2 separate regions of the Homo sapiens genome follow, and region 2 is linked to region 1. Evidence: fine-mapped expression QTL. A gene starts in region 1. The other region holds a variant in brackets. All regions are shown on one strand. Distances are from middle to middle. Region 1 holds the start of MTAP (methylthioadenosine phosphorylase). Region 2 overlaps MTAP (methylthioadenosine phosphorylase).

The links.
Region 2: its variant is fine-mapped to the expression of MTAP in whole blood (TOPMed, PIP 0.98).

Annotation. Positions count from the first base shown.
Region 1 is chr9:21,798,380-21,808,107 of GRCh38, reverse strand. It overlaps MTAP (methylthioadenosine phosphorylase), which reads right to left and starts at 5,472. Exons shown (of 8, transcript NM_002451.4): 1 at 5,327-5,472. The coding sequence starts at 5,359. RefSeq lists a cis regulatory region at 2,898-2,899, enhancers at 2,827-2,971, 4,630-4,839, 5,334-5,962, 5,963-6,593 and a silencer at 5,130-5,289.
Region 2 is chr9:21,821,047-21,830,774 of GRCh38, reverse strand. All of the region lies in intron 4 of MTAP (methylthioadenosine phosphorylase), which reads right to left. Among named protein-coding and RNA genes, the nearest start is that of MTAP, 23 kb to the right of the region's middle. The variant G/A (reference allele first, on the strand shown) is at 5,892.

The DNA of each region.
Region 1 (9,728 bases):
GCCCCAGAGTTTCTGATTCACTGGGACTGGGGTGGGGCCTATGAACTTGCATTTCTAGCAAATGACCAGGTGATATGAATGCATGACACGCTTTGAGAACCACTGCTTTAGATGCTTTTGAGGCACAGGCTGGAATGCCATGACTACAACCACAGGTGAGGATCCAGAATCCACTGCATACAAACATTTTCCTTAACTGCTTCCTCAGCTGTACCTATAGGGTAAGATTTTTACTAATCCATAAAATTATCAAGAGAATAAAATGAAATAATGTATTACCATCAGTCTCTGTTTCTGTATACCCTACCACTCCTGGCAAAAATAAAAAATCAAAATAAACTTCCTCAAAGCAACAAAAAAAGCCCTTATTTCCTCCTTTTACTCTGCTGAGCAGTACAAAACCTGGCTGCTCCTACCTCTCTTCAGCAGGTAGTCTTTTTTGGGATTTAGCCTTGGGGTCCTCAACTAAATGTCAAACAGCTCTCCTGGGGGTATCTGGAAACAGGGCTATTTCTGGCTGTCATGACTAGGGGGAGTGCTACTGGCATTTCTGTGGAGGAGGTTAAGGGTTGTACTCCATGTCCTGCAATGCTTGGGACAGTCCTACAAAAGAAATAATTGTCCTGCCCAAAATGCCCTTGTGTCCCTAGGCAAAAAAAATGAAGGCTTGTTGGTCATGTGATTTTCAACTGGGGCCTGCAGGTTGTCCTCAGTTTCAGATAGCCACACAAGGACTCTCAGGCTGAAGGCCCTTGCAGGCCACACTCAAGACAGCAAAGCAGGGAGTGTAAAGGCCCATATTCCACAGTCTACAAACCATGACTTGTCCATCTCCCTTAATATCATTATGTTGATAGCTCACTACCAACCTACAATGGGACCATATCCCCTCCTTGTCACAGCAACCATGATTAACAAGTTGTTGTTATTATTATTATTATTTTGAGACAGGATCTTACTCTGTCGCCCAGGCTGGAGTGCAATGGCGCAGTCTCTGCTCACTGCAACCTCTGCCTCCTGGGCTCAAGAGATTCGCCCACCTTGGCCTCCTGAGTAGCTGGGATTACATGCGTGCAGCACCGTGCCTGGCTAATTTTTGTATTTTTTGTAGAAATGGGGTTTCACCATGTTGCCCAGGCTGGTCTTGAACTTCTGAGCTCAGGTAATCTGCCCAGCTGGGCCTCCCAAAGTGTTGGGATTACAGGCATGAGCCACCGCGCCTGGCCAAGTCTTATTTTTAATCTCCCAGAATGAAAGCTGGGAGGCTGCCCAGGGGAGCCATGGTACACTGCAGGAGCCCTCCAGAATGCCCTGTATCTGGGTGCCAAAGACTGGTTTGGCCCTCTGTCAGGAATACCACCTGCCCTTGGCTGATGCTGGAGGACAATGTCTCCCTGAGGTCCTCTCAGACAATGGCAGTGTTAATCCCATAGCCTCTGGCTCCTGCTGCCTCTCTCCATGGCTACCCCCCAGGTAATATCCTCACTCCCTGCCTGGACCATCTCTCACTGCAGTGAACCACAAAAAAGATTGCTTGAATTACTCTCACTCCAGGTGGCTTCCTCCCTCCCTCAACCTGCCACCCACTCTGCTCCTACAGCAAAGAGGCCCCTCAGCATCCCAGCCTCTGGCCCCCTAACCAGCAGTATCTGGGAGGAAGGAATCCTACACTCACCCTCCTTGGCTCCAAGGAGTCACTCGTGGCCCCTTATCGCCCACTTTGAAATGATCCACCAGTATCATCATCTTTTTGGTTTTCCAGGTCAAAAGCAGAAATCATCCTGTTCTTCTTCCTGCACTCCCCACATCTTATCCATCTCTGTGTTCTACCTGCAAATTCTATCCCCAATCTGATTATTCCTCACCACCTCCATGGCTCCCACCCTAGACTTCAGCCCCAGCACCAAGACTTCTGGCCTGATCTCTTAGCTCTTCCCCTGCCCACAGGCTATTCTGTATACAACAGCCAGAGTAATCATTTTAAAATGTAAATCAAATGCTGCCTCCCACTCTTAACCCTTCAACAGTTTCCAAAACATTTAAAATCAAAATTCTTGATCGCGGTCTACAAGGATGGCCTTATGAGCTGCATCCACCCAATTCTCACTGTGCATCCGTGATTTCCATTCCTACCACACTGAGCTCACTTCTGCGACATCTTGGTTTTCGCTCTCCTACCCCCATCTCTCTCCTCAGGTCTTCACTTGGATCTTTACCCTTTATCCCTATTTTCACTATCAGCTTAAGTCCATTCAGGCTGCTATAACAAAATATCTTAGGACTGGGTGGCTTATAAACAGCAGAAATTTCTCATAGTCTGGAGGCTTAGCAAGTTCAAGGTCACAGCAGATTCAGTGTCTGAGGAAGGCCCACGTTTTGGCTCATAGATGGTGTCCTCTCACTTAGTAGAGGGAATAAGGCAGCTCTCTGGGGCCTCTTTTGTAAGGGCACTGCTTCCATTCATGAGGGCTCCACCTTTATGACCCCAATCACGCCCAAAGGCCCCATCTTCTAATACCATCACATTGGCGATTAGGTTTCAACATACAGATTTTGGAGGCAGACTACTGCACAGCTTAAAATCCACCTCCCTAGGAGTCTTTTCTGACACCCCTCACCCAATGGAATCTTACTGCTGTTTCACTTTCATGTCAGTTGGTTTCCCACCCTGACTAGAATATAAACTTGAAGAAAATAAATAAAGGCCTCGCTTACTCAAAGCTGCATCCCCATTGTCTAGCAGGTATTCAATAAATATTTTTGAATAGGATTCCACCAGTAGATGGCTAGATTTGAAAGATATGCCAAATATACTGCCAATCCAAAACTCAGTGGAATCTTTCACTTGCATGAGTTAACTGCACCTCTAAAATTGAGAATGAATTTAAGATCCACCCCGTTAATATCTCTATTTTAAGAAGAGAGGTACTTGGGCTGACATTAAAGGAGTACCTGGAACTGGGCTGAGTGTGTTACATGTTACTGTATTTAAATCCAGCAACCTCTCAAAGGACCTGCCAGTGACACCAATGGGGTTCAGACACACATGTGCCTCCTATACCTATACCTGGGTGGTGTGCAGTGGGCACTGGAGGCAGCCTGCTTTCTGCATACCCTCTGCCTCCCTCTTCAAGATGGACATTCTATCAAGTGCTCATTTTAATTGTGCATTAGGTCACAAGAAAACAGGGCAGAGACCACACTTCAGATTTCAGAAATGCCTCACATCTAGTTGGTGGAATGCCAGGCTCTAGGCCCAATTCTGTCATTATCTAGGTCCAGCTGTGTAATTCTGGATACTTAGCTGACCTTTCTGGGCCTCAACTTTACACCCGCAAAACGGGTTTGTGTGGCTATATGGATGGTCTTGAAGGAACACTCCAGCCCCATCATTCTATAATTTGGGAATAGGATGTGGTTTTTATTAACCTATTTTGCTCTGGACACTGGCACCTCACATCTTCTATACAGAATGTTGCCTTAGAAGTCTGGGGAATACGGTGCTGGCATCATGGAATCTCTACGGCAAAGCTGTCATCTGTTCTAAATTAAAAGAGAAATCAGCAGGCAGTCCTAGCACCATATGTACCTCTTAATTTTATATCCAGAAGCTTGCCAAGACCAAAAATACACACTATTCAATATTTACATCAGGTCTCTGAGAATCCCATTGCCCATTCTGCACTTAAATGCACTGCATTAATTTGAAGGGAAACCCTGTGGCAGGGAGAATGCTAACCAGATTAAAGTAAGACTGTTTTAAACACCATTTCTCCATTTTTAATGGCGCTTGAAGTGTATTCCTGCAAGGATAAGGTGAAAAGTTGTGGCCTAATGATACCTAACACAATAACTTAATAATTTTTGGGGAAAAGATCATTCAAAATTAATCTCAGTTCCCCCACTTATAAGCACTACCACTTAATAAGCTTCTACCATGTGCAACATAGACAATATAATTCTAGCCCTCCTAGCAAATTCTGCAGTAAAATTCTCAGTTTATAGATGAGCACCTAAGAGAAGTCACATACTTCACACGAGTTTCATGAAAACCATTTCTGCCTTGTTTCCGCCAAACAATGAAGGCAGGGGAGAGGCCTTCTATAAATATTTGCTGGATGCAAGATTCTTTTCAAAATGACAAAATAAGTTTCATATATAAGTCTGGATGCAACACCCTTCACCATTCCTCTCATTCTAAGTGGCTCATTTAAACCTGCAAGGGCGTAATAAACTAATCTGGCTGATTACACACTGACCGCAGAAATTCGCCTTCTCCCGGGAAAACTGCAGTCGAGTGTAGGGAATCGAGATGCTTTGGAGAAGATCGCAGACCTTCCTATCCCATAGGCCAAAAATTTCTAAAAATCAAACAAGAACGCATTCTTAGCCAGTAATAAACTGCCTAGAAGAGGTCTTAAGTTTTATCATCAATTTTTCTTTACGTGCTGTAATTCTCTCTCGGAATACTAACCAGGAGAGAAGTGTTTAAAACCCCAGGGAAGCCAGCTGCTACTCTCAGAACTCGTGCCCTCCTCAGCACAAAGCTTCCCACCGCACAATGACCCCTTGTATCAAGGCCTCTCAGGGCCTAGGGCACAAGGAAATTGAACTCTAACTTGCAAGGCTGCAAAACAAAGCAGTTTCAAGCCAGAGGCCTCCAAACAGTGCAGCCCTAAAAACGGACGCCTGTACTCCTTTTCGAAGAAAGTCTCAGAATTCTTACAGTATTACGCTGCTGGGGAAAACTTCAGCGCGGAGAAGGCCTACGTTTGGAGGAAAAAGAAGCCGGAAGCATACAAAAGAGCAAGTAAGCAGTTCTCCCACGTGGGCCGCAGGCAACAAGCAGAGTCAGAGAGCGGAAGCTGGAGTCCCGCAAGGCACCAGGAGACGGTCACAGAAGCTGCAGGCGCCCGGACACCTCCTGACTCCAGCCGGGTGTCTTTCTTGGAAGAAGAGTGGTTCTCAGGAATGGTGGTGGCATGGGTGCAGCCTCTCCCATCCACGACCTCTCTCTCTAAAGGGGTGCCTACGCCCTACAGGGTGCGGGTGCAGATAAGCCAAAAGGTGGTGTGTGTGTGTGTGTGTGTGTGTGTGTGTGTGTGTGTGTGTGTGTGTGTGTTGGCGGTGCGGCAGGGGGATCATTTGCAAGCGTACCCTCTCCTCGCGCGGCAAGTGAGTCCCGAGTGCCGCGCCCCAGTCCCTCCCCGCGGCGGCAAGGGACGCACGGGCCGGGCGCATGGCCCCCGGAGGCGCGGTCCCCCGGCGCGGGGGCGAGAAGGCATCCGGCAGGGCGAACCGCTGCGGCTGGGAGGGCTCATCTCACCTTCACGGCGGTGGTGGTGGTGCCAGAGGCCATGTCTGCACGGGAAAGGAATCTGCAGTGGGCGAGCGCTCGGGACTAAGGGAACCAAGCGAGCCACAGAGCGGTGGCTGTGCCAACCTCACTGCGCGGGAGTGAGCAGTGCGGAGACCAGGGGCGGGCCTTGACTCCTCCTCTTCCTCCCCGGGACAGCTGGATTGGCTGCTTGTGTGGGATCTCCCCCGCCACCCCTTCCCCAAATCGAAGTTCCCGCGTTCCGCCCCTTTTGCAGACCTTTCCGGTTCTCCAGGTTTTTGTCGTTTTTTTTTTTTTTTTATCCCCAGTTATAACTAACGGATAATGATAATAATGGAGACCATTTATAGAGCGCTGTATTGTTCCAGACTGTGTGTTTTGCACTTTAATTGGCTTACTTAACTTTCGCTAAAACCTTATAAGGAAGAGCAGCACTCCCTGCTTGGCCCAATATTAGTGGCGTCGGAGGCCTCAGCTGCAAAATCTGGCCCGGCGGCATTCCAGAAGTTCTCGCGGGAGGGAGAATCCTCACCAAGGCGGGTACTGGCCGGCCACGGAGATTCTCTTAGGCAGCTAACGCGGGGCGGCCGCCGCGGCGGGGGCAAGATTTGTCCTTCCTGCGGCTGCGAACCCACCGCGGGTTTGCGTATTTCCCTTGATTCCTGGAGGACAGAGCTGGGATGGACTTGACCCAAGACTCAGGGATGACGAAAGGGAAATAAACAGAGTAACGTAGTACTGGATAATCTTTCTGATTTACGAACTATGATTTACTCATCTTCAATTTGAGGGGCCGCTTTTAGGGGGTTGAGACCTTGCACAACTCCCAGTCTGGCTCTACCTGGCTGGGGGCATCTTTAACCCGTTCTACGCCGGAGCGGCATCGAATACACCTGGATTCAGAATCCAAACTCAGGTCTCCGTCATTCAACACTAGCAGGACGCACACACACACACACCACGAGCCCTTTACAGGGATAATCCCTCATGCTTACAGCCCCCGTCCCTTCCCTACTGGGGTAATCCAATTTAACCTTCCTTGATGGATTAAGCGTTCTGAAACAAAATAATGGGTGGCAAGGATCTTAAGGGTGGACTCTGAGATGTAGAAATGCTGCAAATTAGCCTGGACGTGGGAGGAGGGCCGAGAAAGGGGATGCTTTCCTCTTTCCTTACAGCAGCAAAACACGGAAACAAAACACAAGTACAATTTAATTCAAAATACCACTGTGTGATGTTAGCCTGGATGCTGCTCATAGAACCTATTTACTTAAACAGTATAGACTTTCGTCCTCACATTACTATAAGCTTTAGGTCTAAATTTTCTCACAATGTAAAGTTTTCTTTCTTCTGTTACAATCATCTATTTCTTTTAAGTTATAAAATGCAATGGCAAAAGAAGAATGAAAGTAGAATCCGGGTGCTCCTTTGAGGAATAGGAGACAGGGAATCCTTCGCGGATGAAGACAATGTAGCTTTCTAGGGGCCTTTCTGCCGATTGCTCTATTGAGGAGCAGGAAGCCCACCACTCAGAAGTGAACCATTGAGGGCACAGGGATGCCCTAGGCTTTATGGCCGCTACCTAAGTAGGGGATCCTAGCCAACTTAAGTGACTTGATATGGTTAACAAGTCCAGTTTCTACTCAGCACTGCCTCTCTGCTAAAAGTTAGACGTTGTAACCAAGTTAGATCCTGTAAGCATAAAATACCCCTAGGCATAGGAGTTGGAAACTTGGCGAGGACCAGGCTGGACTTCTGGACTTTTCTACTATAACTTGCAGGTTAGGGCTCAAGCATTTGCTCTTGAAGATGTGATGTCTGTGAAGAGGAAATTCTTCTAAAGTTTGAATTTCATGTAAACTTACATGTGACAAAATATTATTCTACTTTTGATATTTTCTCAACCACTTAAGATTGTAAAAAAGCATTCTCAGTTCAAAGCTGTACAAAAACAGGTGGAGAGCTGGGTTTGGTCGAGGTCTTGGGCCATTGTTTTCCGCTCAGGGTAGTGCCTGAATCAGACGACCCCTTGCTACCCAGACTTGGATAACCCTTGGGCAGTCCTGTGGGACAGTGCTTTCTTTAGTGCAGTATCTTTGAAAAGGTAGGCAGTAATATTTTTGCCTTATTTCCAAATTTTGGGTCATGTTTTTTCTTAACAAGCCCTAAAATAAAAGGAAGACAAAATTTTCAATAATTTTGAATACGCAAAAATTTTCAGTGGTCTCCCTTTTTGATTACTATGTCAACAAGACAAGGAGAGTCGGTCTATTTGTGAACATAGATTTTGCCCTGCCCTTCTGTTCTTATCCTATAAATCCCCCTCTGTTAACCTGTACCCTTGCTTTTCTAAAGATAATTATCAAGAACTAGGTCACCTTACAACAATTCTGATTATGAAACAGTATAAGGATTCCAACAGCTTCTCCCTTTTTGATAATCTCTCATAAATGTCTTCCCAACTTCTAGGTCCTAGCCAACAAAGTACTGAAATGGTTATCACCAGTAGCTGACTATGTTGGGTCTTGAGCAGTGGTTCTTCAGTGTCCTACAGTTCCCTTTTACTAAACATGTTATTTTTGAAGTCGTCTCCAAACCATTCCAGAATCATCAAATCTTCAGGAGGAAGTATTCACACAAATGCATGAAATGTATCACCTCAGCCAACCATATCAGCTTTCCCACTGAATTGTTATATTTCTGCCCCTGACCAGTATGTCTGTCCTGGATGGGTACTACAAAATGGGCCCAAGCTGGCTGGTAACCCATCCTCATCTGAAGGTATTAAAGCTGGCAAGTTGTCATGGCCTAAGAAACTCACATAACTCCCCACTACCTTGTAGATATTTGGGCCAAAATAAAAATTCTAAATAACATGGAGGTGTGCTTAGAGATCCCCAATGGTGTGTGAATCACATCTTTTTACAATACACCTGTATCACAGCCACAATGAGTAGGGACATTTTGGCCACTACTTTTGACAATGGATTAGATTCCCACATTGGAAGCTTTGTGAAAAAGCTAAAGTTCTATTAGCAAGCAGCCACTCTAGATTTAGCAGAACATTGTTGAAAAAATATCTGGGGGAACAATAAGTAAACTAATTATAATAATGACAGTAATACATTTTAAAAATTATTGCATCTTCAGATTCTCAGCCAGGCAAGCCTATGCCAGCATGAAGAAGCCAAAGATGTCTGAACTGGTATAAATTCAGGTTCAAAATCCACAACATCATCGTTGTGCACAGTGTGGTCATTGGGAAGAAAAAAGTTAAACTCAGAGACTCAATGCCCTTAATAAAATTGTATCCAAAGAAACTTCTCCACAGGCAATTATCAGAATAATCAACTTCTCTTTATCCTGCCCAAGAAGGAAAAAAAATGTACTGAAAAGAAAATAGTGGCTAGTGTTTATTAAGAAGCAAAAGATATGCAAGTATGTACCAGGCCAGTCCTAAGGTACCCTTCTGAAAAAACATTGAATATAATTGGATAAATGTATAAGAGATTTGTCTGCAATCCAAGTTCTCTTAACACTCTTGATTGTAAATAACTGAACAAATTATTGATCTAAAAAATACAGCTATGTGTCTTTACCCTGACTCTGCAGTATAGACCATGATACAACATAAACATTAACATTTTAGTAACTAGAGACTTAGATATTTTTGTCATAGAAGGCCTAATTGAACCTTTCTAAATTTCTTATAGGTTAGTATGTGACTATTACTCTAAAACTTTAAGGAAATAAGAACAAAAAACAAAGAGAAGTGTTCCATTCTCCCATTATCATAGTGATAAAACAAAATAAGTAGTATGTCACAAGTGAAGAAAATATTACTGAAATCTAATATTAAAAATGCATTTATTGCAGGTACTTTATAGAGGGAATTGCAAGTGATATACTAGGTTTCTCAAAAAATATTTACATCACATTTTAGGTGGCAATTCCTTATAATGACCTTTAATGAAAGTGGAGAGTCCAGTTATAAAGTGTAACCTGGCATCTGTGTTTTTGGTTGAGGGAAGAACCCCATGCTTTAAAATGAGTTAAGTAGGGTCAGTTTTGACAGTCTGCTTTAAAGTTGGTATGCTCCAGATAGTTGGAATTAGCCATATGTTTCTTGTTGCAATAGAATCAAGTTCTCCTTCAGTTTTCTTTATTCGTTCCTTCTATTCAAAGTCCCTTTTACCCTAGAAATATCCTTCATTGCAAATCACCTTGTCTTGTCTTCAAAGTTCACTTCAAATTGTATCTCCCCTATCATTTCTGAAACTCTACTGAAGATGACTTAAGTTGCATATAATTTGGATTTTTTGAAGTAAAATCTCACCATTTTTTCACTTTTCTTAGATTAATGCTGCACATTAAAAGCATATTCAGGTTA
Region 2 (9,728 bases), 23 kb before region 1:
TTGACTCTTTTATGAGGTCTTTTTTCCCCTATTAATAGAAAAACTTGCTTCAGTTTCCCATAAGTGACTCAGTGAGAGCCAGGTGTGCATACATACAAGGGTGTGTACCATAGGAGAGAAGTTCCAAAATTATGAATCTGGGAGTACATATCTTATGAGAGCCTTTTAATGTATAAACAGCCTGATGACATTCTTTTAGGACAGACTAAAGGTCAAATACTTTCCCCAGTTCAAACTGACTGTTTAATCGCTGCAAAGAAGTGGAACAAATCCCACTCCTAACCATCTTTTACCCTCAGTGGCCAAATGACTTGTGGCTCTAACAATGGGGACCTTGTACAAGTTAAAAGAAATGGATTAATCAAACACAATCCAGCAGGAGGCATAGGCACTGAAGAAACCTACTGCAGACAAGCCTCCTAGACAAAGTTCTTGGTATAGATTCTGATTTTCCTATTTTTAATTTTTGGTTTGGGAAGAACACTACACACAGAGCCCAGGGCCTATGGCAAGGAAGCATCAGGAAACTCGTCCCTGTGCAACAAAAACGGGAAAATGAAAAATATAACACATTCTTTTGGAATTTAAGTTCTAGACCAAGATATATGTTGCTTTCTATGGATGCTCTACTCACAAATGAAAGATGATTATTTTCACTTTAATTGCTATGGAATTTACTTGAATGAGAAAGACACAAAGACTGACTGCACATACCCAAACATACTTGAACCCACTGCACTCTCTACCTCTTTTTCCAGGGCAGTCACACCCAGGGCTCCCCTTTTCTTATGCCCAGGCTTTTTAACTTCATCAGCTGTAATGTAGCATGAGAGAGAGAAGAAAAAAAAAGATTTTCAGATAAGAATGACATTTTTCTTAAAAGAGCTTCCAGCATTGTCAGAGTCCTTCAAAAGTATATTTCATTATTAGAGAAGAAATCTAATGTTTCTAAAAACAACCCTAAAAATCAGCCACATGTCTTTCTTAAATCTGAGGTTGGTCCCCCCGCCCTGCTCATGCTGGCACTGAAGGAAAAGAAAATGATGTGCTTTAGCTTGGCCATCTATAAAATAAGAATAGCCGTATTATTAAACAATCTCGCTAGCCTTTGAAGAACACTTTAGGATGAGGATTTTTTTTTTTTTCTGAGACAACGTGCTGACAAACTTACGGCAATAGGCCAATGTGTGTGGTTCTAGGTAAGTCCCTGGAGAGAATACACGGGCAGTGTAGGGAAAAGGAGCCTGGCCAGGCACAGTGGCTCACACTTGCAGTGAGCCGAGATTGCATTACTGCAGTCTAGCCTGGGCAACAGAGTGGGACTGTCTCAAAAAAACAAACAAACAAAAAAAAAAAACAACAAAAGAATGAGAGAGAGAGATGGTGCAATTCAGCCCTCCATTGGGAAGAAAGAACCAACGTGTAGTGGGTAAAGTGATTTGCACAGGGCCAAACAGAGTCAAGATGAAACCTCCTGATTCAATGCTCCTGCCCCAGCTGCCCTGGAATTCTATAATCCACGGGGTGGCTTTACAGGATGTTACAATCCTGTTAAACAAGTTGGGGCTGTGGGTATGACTCTGGGAAACCCCAGGCTAAAAATGGCACAGCCTATTTGTATCTGATGCCATCAGCAAGTGGAGGTAGGAGATGCCCGTCTCAATACACCAAGATTCACTTTACTAAGAAATGTGCTATCAGTAAAACACATAGAGGGCATTAACCACAAGGCATCTTCTGCTATGAGATGTTCAAACACATAATGAATGATATATATGCAAGGCATCTTCTGCTATGAGATGTTCAAACACATAATGAATGATATATGTGCTCAAGCCTGGTTAACTGGAACCCACTCAGCTCAATCAAAGGCAGCAGCACTTAAAAGATGCATCCAACAGCAATATGATGTTAGCCACCTACATAGTTTTAAAATTTCTAGTGGTCACTGAAAAAGTAAAAGAGAAACAGGTAAAATTAACTTTAAAATCTTGTCTAACCTAATATATTCAAAACGTTATCACCCCAAATAAGTAATCAATGTAAAAATTGAGATTTCATGCTAAATTATATTCTCTTAGGGATCCTTCTTTTTTTTTGAGATGGAGTTTCACTCTTGTTGCCTAGGCTGGAGTGCAATGGAGCAATCTCGGTTCACTGTAACCTCTGCCTCCTGGGTTCAAGCAATTCTCCTGCCTCAGCCTTCCGAGTAGCTGGGATTACAGGTGCTCACCACACCTGGCTACTTTTTTTTTGTATTTTTAGTAAAGACGGGGTTTCACCATGTTGACCAGGCTGGTCTCGAACTCCTGACCTCAGGTGATCTGCCTGCCTCAGCCTCCCAAAATGTTGGGATTACAGGCGTGAGCCACTGCACCCTGCCAGGGATCCTTCTTTTAACAGATTCTTTCCTCCTGTTGTTGTAAAGTAGTGTCAACTAGTGGACCCTCCAGCCAGTATGCACACACTCTCAATAATGGCACTCAGTTACTGAGAAGGTTAACACATGCAAGATCCCACAAAAGGCACTTATTAGAGACTTTGAACTTCCAAGGAAACATTAAGAGGGCAGGTTATCCATATGTCTCATAAACAGAAAAATAGTAGAAGATCTTAAGGTTACCTGGCTAAGATAGAATGAAACCAGATCTGATGGCAATACCTGTTTTCTTTCTAGTCTCCATCTTCTGACCCAACTGCTTTCTTGAAAGAGCCAGTATGTGAAACATCTACATTTAAGACATGTGAGTAAAAGATCTGGGAAATGCAACAGCGTATAGTCATACTGTTTAAGTAACAGATTAACCCAAGGCTCAGTGCCCAATTCAGACTTTACAGTATCATCTGTAATACTTTATACATCTGGATCATCCTGAATATGGAGTTTTGTATTCCACTCTATTTAGCAATCATATTATAATCATTTTCTTAAACTATTACCTCCAAACACATGGACGTTGACAGCCATTGAGATTTTGATCAAGATGTCTCCAAAACACAAACTCCAGCCTATCTCTCTATTCAAATGACTATGTTCAAGCCCTCAAAAATTACTGACAGAGCAAAGATGGGCCAGGAACTGTTGTGGGTGTTGGTGATATGGTGCAAACTGGGCAGAAAGTGACTTTGATCTCACATGGCTTAGAGGGAAACAGGTCACAAATATATAATGTCAGGTATAAATACATTATAAGGACATAACTTGGGGTGAGAAATATGTAACCATTTTAGTCTAACCCCATTATTTATTAGGTTGAACCACATGAAACTGCTGATATTCAACCATTTCTGACCTACAGAATGGGCAATTTCAAAACAGTTTCATTCCATCAGGAAACAACCAAGAATGCTTCTGATAGACTGGAAATTATAATGAATCCCTGAAAGGCAGAAGCCACAGTGGCCTGGACTGGACAACCCTCTCTCCCATAGCAGAAGCTCTAGGAGCAGGCTGTGAGTACAGTAAGCTCAGAGATAACTGATGGGAGGAGCAGCATGGACTGAGGTGGTAGGCAGGGTGATTGGATGGGGGATTGTGGAAGGATCCCCAAATGATTTAACTCTGCGCTACTCTCCACTCTCCATCCAGCCCAGGAGGCTCCTGTCTTCACCCAGAGCATTCTGAGAGGCAATTATTTCTACCAGGAATAGGGGAGGGGGTGGCCCTAGTACAGCTGCCCCTAATCTTTTTGGCACCGGGGACTGATTTCATGGAAGATAATTTTTCCACAGAGAGGGTCAGAGGGGATGGTTTCAGGATGAAACTCTTCCACCTCAGATCATCAGGCATTAGTTAGATTTTCATAAGGAGTGCACAACACAGATCCCTTCCACGTGCAGTTCACAATTGGGTTCCTGCTCCTATGAGACTCTAATGCTGCTGCTGATCTGACAGGATGGGGAGCTCAGGTGGTAATGCTCGCTCTCGCCCCACGGCTCACCTTCTTCTGTGCAGCCCGGTTCCTAACAAGCCACAGGGGTGGGGGATCCCTGACCTAGAGACCACCACTTTCCCTTGTGATTTCAACTACCTCTAAATGCAGAAAAGGTCCAAAAATTTGGCAGTCTATTATTGTTGTTTTTTTGGGGGGGTAAAGGAACAATATATATTACTTGTGCAGTTAAATAATAATAATAATAATAATAATAATAATAATAATAATAAACAAAACCCCAGCACCTCTGGCACCTGATCGATCGCATTATGAAGGGACAACTGGACATCACATGCCTTCCGACAGGATGCAGAAGGAAGGATCCTTGCCAAGAATTCAAACCTGGTTCTGATCAGGCCACCAGAACTAAATCCAGTTTATAGCAAACACAGGGGCCGGGAGAAGACACTAAATGACACTTGATACAATTAGTAACATCCAGAATGTGGATAGGCAGTAAAAGGAAAAGGAAAAAAGAAGGTGGAATCTTCCAGACTAGAAGGCTTATTAAGCTTATGTGTGTAATGAGTGGACCCTTATTTGAACAAACCAACTATTAAAAAAAAAGTTCATGAGACAATAGAGAGAACTTCCTAGATATCTAATACTAAGGAAATACTAATTTATACTCTCTTTAAAAAAAAAAAAAAAGAAAATGTTCTCTTGAAGCTAGGAATTAGGAACTTAGAGAGTCCCTGATTATTATTCTTTTGTGTATATGTTTAAAAATTCCCATAATATAAAGAGACAGCCTATAGATAGGAAAAAAATGTTTACAAACCATACCTCGGATAAGGGGTTAATACCCAAAATACGTAAGGAAACTAAATGAAAGAAAGTTCTAAAAACACAACCTGATTAAAAAAATAGGCAAAGGACTTGAATAGACATTCCTCAAAAGAAGACACATAAATGGACAACAGCTGTATGAAAAATGCTCAACATCACTAATCATCAAGAAAATGCAAATAAAAACCACAATAAGATATCACCTCACACCTGAATGGCTTTTTTGCTGTCACCCAGGCTGGAGTGTAGTGGTGCATTCATGAATCATTCTAGCCTTGACCTCCCAGGCTCAAGCGATTCTCCCACCTCAGTCTCTTAAGTATCTGGGACAATGGCTGTATATCAACACACATGGCTAATTTTTGTTTTATTTTTTACAGAGACAAGGTCTCACTATGTTGCCCAAGCTGGTCTCAAACTTCTGGGCTCAAGCAATCCTCTTGCTTCAACCTCTCAAAGTGCTAGGATTACAGGCGTGAACCACTGTGCCAGGCCACAATGGCCATTATCAAAATGACAAAACAAAGTAAGTGTTGATGAGGATGTGACAAAAACAGAACCCTTGTATACTGCTGGTAGGAATATAAATTAATACAGCCATTACTAAAATTCCCCAAAAAACTGAAAATATCAACTACCACATGATCCAAGAATCCCATCTCAGAGTGTATAAGGAAATGAAATTTTACGTCAAGAAAGACATCAGCACTTCCATGGTCCCTGCAGCATTATTCACAATAGCCAAGATATGGAAGCAACATAAACGTCCATCAACAGATGAACAGATAAAGAAAATGTGGGAGAGGCGGTTCCAAGATGGCCTAATAGGAACAGCTCCAGTCTACAGCTCCCAGCATGAGCAATGCAGAAGACAGGTGATTTCTGTATTTCCAACTTAGGTACCGGGTTCATCTCACTGGGGCTTGTCGGACAGTGGGTGCCGGAGAGCGGGTGCAGCCCATCGAGTGTGAGCCAAAGCAGGGTGAGGCATCGCCTCACCTAGGAAGCGTAAGGGGTCAAGGAATTCCCTTTCCTAGCAAAGGGAAGGGGTGACAGACGGCACCTGGAAAATCGGGTCACTGCCACCCTAATACTGTGCTTTTCCAACTGTCTTAGCAAACGGCACACCAGGAGATTATATCCCGTGCATAGCTCGGAGGGTCCCAC[G/A]CCCACAGAGCCTCGCTTATTGCTAGCACAGCAGCCTGAGATCAAACTGCAAGGCGGCGGCAAGGCTGGGGGATGGGCGCCCACCACTGCTGAGGCTTGAGTAGGTAAACAAAGTGGCTGGGAAGCTCTAACTGGGTGGAGCCCACCACAGCTCAAGGAGGCCTGCCTGCCTCTGTAGACTCCAACTCTGGGGGCAGGGCATAGCCAAACAAAAGGCAGCAGAAACCTCTGCAGACTTAAATGTCCCTGTCTGACAGCTTTGAAGAGAGTAGTGGTTCTCCCAGCACAGAGTTTGAGATCTGAGAATGGACAGACTGCCTCCTCAGGTGGGTCCCTGAACCCCGAGTAGGCTAACTGTGAGGCACCCCCCAGTAGGGCAGACTGACACCTCACACGGCTGGGTACCCCTCTGAGACGAAGCTTCCAGAGGAACAATCAGGCAGGAACATTTGCTGTTCAGCAACATTCGCCGTTCTGCAGCCTCCACTGCTGATATCCAGGCAAACAGGGTCTGGAGTGGACCTCCAGCAAACTCCAACAGACCTGCAGCTGAGGGTCCTGACTGTTAGAAGGAAAACTAACAAACAGAAAGGACATCCACACCAAAACCACATCTGTATGTCACCATCATCAAAGACCAAAGGTAGATAAAACCACAAAGATGGGGAAAAAATAGGGCAGAAAAGCTGAAAATTCTAAAAATCAGAGCACCTCTCCCCCTCCAAAGGAACACAGCTCCTCGCCAGCAATGGAACAAAGCTGGATGGAGAATGACTGACGAGTTGAGAGAAGGCTTCAGACAATCAAACTTCTCTGAGCTAAAGAAGGAAATTCGAACCCAATGCAAAGAAGCTAAAAACCTTGAAAAAAGATTAGACGAATGGCTAACTAGAATAACCAGTGTAGAGAAGTCCTTAAATGACCTGATGGAGCTGAAAACCATAGTACGAGAACTACGTGACGAATGCACAAGCCTCAGTAGCCGATTCCATCAACTGGAAGAAAGGGTATCAGTGATTGAAGATCAGATGAATGAAATGAAGCGAGAAGTTTAGAGAAAAAAGAGTAAAAAGAAATGAACGAAGCCTCCAAGAAATATGGGACTATGTGAAAAGACCAAATCTACATCTGATTGGTGTACCGGAAAGTGACAGAGAGAATGGAACCAAGTTGGAAAACAGTCTGCAGGATATTATCCAGGAGAACTTCCCCAATCTAGCAAGGCAGGCCAACATTCAAACTCAGGAAATACAGAGAACGCCACAAAGATACTCCTCGAGAAGAGCAACTCCAAGACACATAATTGTCAGATTCACCAAAGTTGAAATGAAGGAAAAAATGTTAAGGACAGCCAGAGAGAAAGGTCGGGTTACCCACAAGGGAAGCCCATCAGACTAAAAGCAGATCTCTCGGCAGAAACTCTACAAGCCAGAAGAGAGTGGGGGCCAATATTCAACATTCTTAAAGAAAAGAATTTTCAACCCAGAATTTCATATCCAGCCAAACTAAGCTTCATAAGAGAAGGAGAAATAAAATCCTTTACAGACAAGCAAATGCTGAGGATTTTGTCACCACCATGCCTGCCCTAAAAGAGCTCCTGGAGGAAAGGAACAACTGGTACCAGCCACTGCAAAAACATGCCAAAATATAAAGACCATCGATGCTAGGAAGAAACTGCATCAACTAACGACCAAAATAACCAGCTAACATCATAGTGACAGGATCAAATTCACACATAACAATATTAACCTTAAATGTAAATGGGCTAAATGCTCCAATTAAAAGACACAGACTGGCAAATTGGATAAAGAGTCAAGACCCATCAGTGTGCTGTATTCAGGAGACCCAACTCACGTGCAGAGACACACATAGGCTCAAAATAAAGGGATGGAGGAAGATCTACCAAGCAAATGGAAAACAAAAAAAGGCAGTCGTTGCAATCCTAGTCTCTGATAAAACAGACTTTAAACCAACAAAGATCAAAAGAGACAAAGAAGGCCATTACATAATGGTAAAGGGATCAATTCAACAAGAAGAGCCAACTATCCTAAATCTATATGCACCCAATACAGGAGCCCAGATTCATAAAGCAAGTCCTTAGAGATCTACAAAGAGACTTAGACTCCCACACAATAATAATGGGAGACTTTAACACCCCACTGTCAACATTAGACAGATCAACGAGACAGAAAGTTAACAAGGATATCCAGGAATTGAATTCAGCTCTGCACCAAGCGGACCTAACAGACATCTACAGAACTCTCCACCCCAAATCAACAGAATATACATTCTTCTCGGCACCACATCACACTTATTCCAAAATTGACCACATAGTTGGAAGTAAAGCACTCCTCAGCAAATGTAAAAGAACAGAAATTATAACAAACTATCTCTCAGACCACAGTGCAATCAAACTAGAACTCAGGATTAAGAAACTCACCCAAAACTGCTCAACTACATGGAAATTGAAGAACCTGCTCCTGAATGACTACTGGGTACATAACAAAACGAAGGCAGAAATAAAGATGTTCTTTGAAACCAATGAGAACAAATACACAACATACCAGAATCTCTGGGACACATTTAAAGCAGTGTGTAGAGGGAAATTTATAGCACTAAATGCCCACAAGAGAAAGCAAGAGAGATCTAAAATTGACACCCTAACATCACAATGAAAAGAACTAGAGAAGCAAGAGCAAACACATTCAAAAGCTAGCAGAAGACAAGAAATAACTAAGATCAGAGAAGAACTGAAGGAGATAGAGACACAAAAAACCCATCAAAAAATCAATGAATCCAGGAGTTGGTTTTCTGAAAGGATCAACAAAATTGATAGACCACTAGCAAGACTAATAAAGAAGAAAAGAGAGAAGAATCAAATAGATGCAATAAAAAATGATAAAGGGGATATCACCACCGATCCCACAGAAATACAAACTACCATCAGAGCATACTATAAACACTTCTATGCAAATAAACTAGAAAATCTAGAAGAAATGGATAAATTCCTGGACACACACACCCTCCCAAGACTAAACCAGGAAGAAATTGAATCCCTGAATAGACCAATAACAAACAGGCTCTGAAGTTGAGGCAATAATTAATAGCCTACCAACCAAAAAAAGTCCAGGACCAGATGGATTCACAGCCGAATTCTACCAGAGGTACAAGGAGGAGCTGGTACCATTCCTTCTGAAACTATTCCAATCAATAAAAAAAGAGGGAATCCTCCCTAACTCATTTTATGAGGCCAGCATCATCCTGATACCAAAGCCTGGCAGAGACACAACCAAAAAAGACAATTTTAGACCAATATCCCTGATGAACATCGATGCAAAAATCCTCAATAAAATACTGGCAAACTGAATCCAGCAGCACATCAAAAAGCTTATCCACCATCATCAAGTGGGCTTCATCCCTGGGATGCAAGGCTGGTTCAACATACGCAAATCAATAAACATAATCCAGCATATAAACAGAACCAAAGACAAAAACTACATGATTATCTCAATAGATGCAGAATAGGCCTTTGACAAAATTCAACAGCCCTTCATGCTAAAAACTCTCAATAAGTTAGGTATTGATGGGACGTAGCTCAAAATAATAAGAGCTATTTATGACAACCCCACAGCCAATATCATACTGAATGGGCAAAAACTGGAAGCATTCCCTTTGAAAACTGGCACAAGACAGGGATGCCCTCTCTCACCACTCCTATTCAACACAGTGCTGGAAGTTCTGGCCAGGGCAATCAGGCAGGAGAAAGATGTAAAGGGTATTCAATTAGGAAAAGAGTAATCAAATTGTCCTTGTTTGCAGATGACATGACTGTATATT